Regions from separate parts of the Homo sapiens genome. Here region 2 is linked to region 1. Evidence: fine-mapped expression QTL. A gene starts in region 1. The other region holds a variant in brackets. All regions are shown on one strand. Distances are between the middles of the regions. Region 1 holds the start of NAALADL1 (N-acetylated alpha-linked acidic dipeptidase like 1). Region 2 overlaps SNX15 (sorting nexin 15).

The links. PIP is the estimated chance that this variant, and not a neighbour inherited with it, causes the effect.
Region 2: its variant is fine-mapped to the expression of NAALADL1 in whole blood (INTERVAL, PIP above 0.99).

Annotation. Positions count from the first base shown.
Region 1 is chr11:65,056,979-65,059,877 of GRCh38, reverse strand. It overlaps NAALADL1 (N-acetylated alpha-linked acidic dipeptidase like 1), which reads left to right and starts at 1,325. Exons shown (of 18, transcript NM_005468.3): 1 at 1,325-1,541; 2 at 1,628-1,800; 3 at 1,882-2,003; 4 at 2,385-2,507. The coding sequence starts at 1,357.
Region 2 is chr11:65,034,046-65,036,944 of GRCh38, reverse strand. SNX15 (sorting nexin 15) reads right to left here. Exons shown (of 8, transcript NM_013306.5): 4 at 1,983-2,098; 5 at 1,739-1,886; 6 at 1,282-1,425. ARL2-SNX15 (ARL2-SNX15 readthrough (NMD candidate)) reads right to left here. Exons shown (of 11, transcript NR_037650.2): 7 at 1,983-2,098; 8 at 1,739-1,886; 9 at 1,282-1,425. Among named protein-coding and RNA genes, the nearest start is that of SAC3D1, 5.7 kb to the left of the region's middle. The variant C/T (reference allele first, on the strand shown) is at 1,147.

The sequences.
Region 1 (2,899 bases):
AGCCTTGGAGGACCCCCTCAGATGTTCCCTCCTAGTCAGAACTCCTCACTCTTTCACTGGGAGCATGGTGATCCTCCCTCTACAGGGCACTTACCACATGGCTGAACCTAAAGCCTGTCTGCCTCGCCTGCTGGATTTTGCTTCCCCACAGCCTTGCATGGCTCTAGTATAGCACAGAATGAACAGTGCTTGCATGTATAAAGGAAGGAATGAATAAGTGAATGGAGGGATGGGTGGATGGATAAATAGGAGGGTGGATGACGGAGTCCAGGCAGAGCCAGGGGATAGAAGAGGAAGTCACCTCGCCAGGGAGGCATGGGCTTCCCCTGCTGCCTCCTCTGGGACAGCCTCCCTTCCCAGGACTCCCATTCCTCGTATCGCTGGGCTCCCTTCAGGATAGACACAGAGAGTTCTTCTGGGTCCTCCTTCTTCCTTTAGCTCTAGGCCTTACATTTTCCAGAGTCAGATGAGGGATGAGTAGTTAAAATTGATGAGCTCCCACTACATGTCAGACACTGCACTAGCTATTTCTACAGATGCCATATTGTTTAATGAAAATGACACCATAGCCGGCACGGTGGCTCACTCCTGTCATCCCAGCACTTTGGGAGGCTGAGGCGGGTGATCACCTGAGATCAGGAGTTTGAGACCAGCCTGGCCAACATGGTGAAACCCCATCTCTACTAAAAATACAAAAATTAGCTGGACATGGTGGTGCACACCCGTAATCCCAGCTACTCGGGAGGCCGATGCAGGAGAATCACTTGAGCCCGGGAGGTGGAGGTTGCAGTGAGCCGAGATCACACCACTGGACTCCAGCCTGGGTGTCAGTGGAAGACACAGTCTAGAAAAAAAAAAAAGAAAACAGGTGTAGAGAAGCTGAGTGGATTGCCCAAGGTCACACAGCTTACGTCCAGCAAGAAGGGGGATCTCAACTCAAAATCTGCTCAGGCAGGTAGGGCTGGGTATGCTGTAGATCGGCTGCCTTGGAGGGAGGCAGAGGCAGTGAGGGTGGGCAGTGGGCACGGCCCTGCTGTGAACACAGGAGCTCTGAGTTCCAGCCCTGGCTTGGCCTCTGTTTTCCTGGGACACCCTGGATGAGCCCCTTCCCTCTCGGCTTCAGTGTCCCTGGGTGACCTTGCTGCCCTTGGAGAGCCATTCCAGGCAAATGGTGCAGGATGTGGTGGATGTGGATGGCTCCTGGCTCTCACTGCGGGATGTTCCCTCACTCTCCCTGCCAGCTGGGGGTCAAAGGGCAGTGCCACCCATGGGGTAATGTTTAACCAGGCACAACACCCCCTCTATAGGGAATAACCTATAGACCAGTCCTACCCCAGCTGGCCAAGAGTCCGCAGGATGCAGTGGACGAAGGTGTTGGGGCTGGGGCTGGGGGCTGCTGCCCTCTTGGGGCTGGGGATCATCCTCGGCCACTTTGCCATCCCCAAAAAAGCCAACTCACTGGCCCCCCAGGACCTGGACCTGGAGATCCTGGAGACCGTCATGGGGCAGCTGGATGCCCACAGGATCCGGGAGAACCTCAGGTGAGAAGTGGGGCCATCTGCTCCTCCGTTTGCCAGAGGCCCCCTCCCTGATGCTGGCCCTGCCCCTCCCTCTGCCCACCCTGCAGAGAACTCTCCAGGGAGCCACACCTGGCCTCCAGCCCTCGGGATGAGGACCTGGTGCAGCTGCTGCTGCAGCGCTGGAAGGACCCAGAGTCAGGCCTGGACTCGGCCGAGGCCTCCACGTACGAAGTGCTGCTGTCCTTCCCTAGCCAGGAGCAGCCCAACGTCGTGGACATCGGTGAGGTCCTGCCCAGTCTTGGGAATGCCCGGGGGTGGGGAGCTGCTGGGCCCAGCCATGATACTGCCACCCCTCCAACAGTGGGCCCCACTGGGGGCATCATCCACTCCTGCCACCGGACTGAGGAGAACGTGACCGGGGAGCAAGGGGGGCCAGATGTGGTACAACCCTATGCTGCCTATGCTCCTTCTGGAACCCCACAGGTGGGCCCAGAACCCCCCCTACTGCTCTGGCCCAGCTCCCTTGGTTCCACCCAGGGTTCTCCCCACCCTGACCCAGGGAACGTGCCTCAACTGGGGCACAGCGCGCCCTCCGGAATTTACTCACCGGGACACTCCATCGCTGCTCCTTTCCTCCATCAGTCATTCAACAAACACTAGTGGCTCTGCTCAAGGCCAGGTCTGTTACAGGGCACCCAGACATGGAGGAAATGAGGGGTGACTGTTCTTGGGGAGCTTACAAGCTCTGGGTGAGGTGGGGGAACAGAATCTAAATTCTCCCTCCTGCCATGCAAACTTCCACCCCCCTTCCCCACCCACACTTCGCTGGGCCCAGCTCTAAGGATCACCCCCTCTTGGGACTAGGGCCTCCTCGTCTATGCCAACCGGGGCGCGGAAGAAGACTTTAAGGAGCTACAGACTCAGGGCATCAAACTTGAAGGCACCATTGCCCTGACTCGATATGGGGGTGTAGGGCGTGGGGCCAAGGTGAGTGGCAGTCCCCCAGTGCAGGAGGCCTCGGTGAGGAAGGGGCTGGGCAGTGGACTGGAGGAAGTGAGGGGAAGGGGAAGGAGAAGAGGCAGTGTTGAGTGGGGAACCAAGCCCCAGGGTGGGGCAGGAAAGGCAAGGTGTTTTCGGGTTGTCCCACCAATGGGCTGTGTGGCCTCGGATGCCTCCCTGACCCTCTCTGAGCTGTAGGAAATAAAGGGGTTGAGTACAATTTTCAGGTTTGGTATTCCAGAAGTCTAAGTCCTCCTGTGAAATAGTTTTGAATATTCAACTTAAGTCCCTCCTGTTGGCCCTCTCCCTGCCATTTCTTTTCCATCAAAAATTCTGACTAGGGGCCGGGCGCTGTGGCTCACGCCTATAATCCCAGCACT
Region 2 (2,899 bases), 23 kb after region 1:
TCAGCACTCTGGGAGGCGGAGGCAGGTGGATCACTTGAGTGTCAGGAGTTTGAGACCAGCCTGACCAAAATGGTGCGACCCTGTCTCTACTCAAAATACAAAAATTAGCCAGGCGTGGTGGCGCGCGCCTGTAGTCCCAGCCACTCAGGAGGCTGAGGCAGGAGAATCGCTTGAATCCGGGAGGCGGAGGTGGGAGTGAGCTGAGATCGCGCCACTGCACTCCAGCCTCGGCAATCCAGAGCAAGACTCGATCTCAAAAAAAAAAACGGGCCAAGCGCGGTGGCTCACATCCGTAATCCCAGCACTTTCAGAGGCTGAGGCGGGCGCACCACCTGAGGTCGGGAGTTTGAGACCAGCCTGACCAACATGGAAAAATCCCATCTCGACTAAAAATACAAAATTAGCAGGCACCGTGGTGCGCGCCTGTAGTCGCAGCTACTCAGGAGGCTGAGGCAGGAGAATCGCTTGGACCTGGGAGGTTGCAGTGAGCAGAGATTGCGCCACTGTACTCCAGACTGGGCGACAAAGTGAGACTCTGTCTCAAAAAAAGAAAAAGAATAACAGACATGGACTCTTGCTATATTGCCCAGGCTGGTCTTGAATTCCTGGGCTCAAGCAATCTTCCTGCCTCAGCCTCCCAAAGTGTCGAGATTACAGGTGTGAGCCAATGTGCCAGGCGTTGGCAAATTTTAGAATGAAAAACTCCAGTGTCTCAGAGCTTGGGACTGTCGAGTCCCAGGATCTCACAGCAAGAAGGTGCCCAGGACCCTGACCTCCATTGGGGGGGCCCTTCTACCTCCAGCATCCCCAAATGCCAGTGGCTCCAGGCCCCCAGAGGGATTTCCCTTTGCAGCTGCCCTTTGAGCTGAGAACTCACTCCCATTGACCAGCAGGCCTCTTGCCTTCAGGATCTGCAGCCAGACCCTGGCCAGTCAGGAAATCCCACCAAGAGCTTGCAGGGAAGGAACTAAAATGTCCCAGAGCAGTGTGACCCGGCTCTTTCCAAAGCCTTCTCAGTGAGATGGCCCCAACATGGGAAGTGCCTCCTTTCCTTCCTCGTGGCTATTTGTTGCACAGGTGCATCCAGCACACCACACCACGTGCCCTGGCACAGGGCTTCTAATTCTCATTGAAGCTGCTATTGGC[C/T]CACAGGGCAGCACTGCTGAGGAGACGTCTCTCCCTGATCTGCGCAGGCACTGAGCAGGCTAGTGGGGCTCTGCCCTCCTCCCTGTCCCAAGGACGTCCTGCCCTGGCTCCTTCCCGGCTGTCCCAGCTCATTACCTTCCTTGGAGAAGGGGTCGAAGAGGGCAAGCTCAGCCTCGGTGAGGGGGCCTCGGGCAGGGGAACCAGATGCCTCCTCGGTGCTCTCACAGTTAAAGAGGAGATCCAGGGCCTCCTGGGCAGGGCTGGATGGTGGGGGGTCCACTGAGGAAGAGATAAGTGGGGTCATGAATACCTGCGTTTATTTCTCAGCTTTCAAAATAGAATTACTCTCTCCTTAAACCCTTGCAGCAACCATGGGCATAGACAAGCCTGTTATTAGGGTTTGTGCTCATTTTACAGATCAAGAAACTGTAGCACAGAGAAGGAAAAGGACCTGCCCAAAGTTCCTCAGCCAGTTAAGTGATAGACCTGGGACACACACACATTTCTCAGTAAGATCACTGAGGAGGGAGTGTGGCCGCCCTCCCCACTCTGCACCCTCCAGCCCTGGTTCCCTCCTCCCACCCCGATGTACCTGGCACCTCCAATTCCTCGAGGCCCCTCCTTTCTGCAGGGAGCAGTTGGGATAGCCGGGGGTCATCAGGGGGCGGGGTGGGGATCAGAGGGGGTGGCAGGATGTGTAGGTCCCTGGACACCTCCAAGGGTCGGGTCACCTCCCCACCCTGCAGGACAGAAAGATCAGACATGGGGAGTCATGGGGTGCAATCTGGTGGGTGGGTAAGTGGCCCAAGTTCTGGGAAGGTGGAAGGTGCACATACCCGGAAGAACTCCTTGAGCTGGGGGCTGTTGTTGAGCGCAGGTATGTGCACAGTGAAGCGAAGCAGGTCCTCTGCCCCCTTTCGCCGCTCCTCGATCACTGAGGCTTCAAACCGGCCTACGGCCCCCAGGACAAGGAACAGGGGAGAGTGGCGGTGACCCACAGGGGCTTCTGCCCCAAGGCCACTTTTCCTGGTCCTGCCTGAGATGCTCTGAGCAACTCACTGCCCTCCTACCCATTCTCCCAGCAATCTGCCCTGGTTCCTCCTGGGGTGAGGTAGGGGCTTCCAGGAGGGATCAATTTCCCTATTCATTCATTTGCCAGATGTTTACTGAGCACCTACTATATGCTAGACTCAGAAGGTGAACAGGGGAGGAACCAGTCTCTGCCCTTGTGAATATCATATCCTACCCAGGGGGAGCTAGGCAGTTAACAAGAAACAAAAGCATTTCTGATGGCTTTGATCTAATGAGAAAAGTAAGGCTCAGAGAGGGAAAGTGACTTGCCCAAGGTCACAAAGCAAGGAGCCCCCGTTTATTTTTTGAGAAAAGGACTGGCTGTGTTACCCAGGCTGGTGTGCAGTGGCACGATCTCAGCTCACTGCAACCTCTGCCTCCTGGGATCAAGCCGCCCTCCCGCCTCAGCCTCCCAAGTAGCTGGGACTATAGGTGCACACAATCATGCCTGGCTAATTTTTGTATTTTTTGTAGAGATGGGGTTTTACCATGTTGCCCAGGCTGGTCTTGAACTCCTGAGCTCAAGTGATTACCTTGCCTTGGCTTCCCAAAGCACTGAGATTACAGGTGCGAGCCACAGTTTCACTGCTCTGTCCTAGGTATTTTGCAGAGCAGGCTAACTCTGGTCCAGTTACTGTGCGGCCAGTCTGTGGTACTTCCCCACTGGCCTGGCATAACCTGA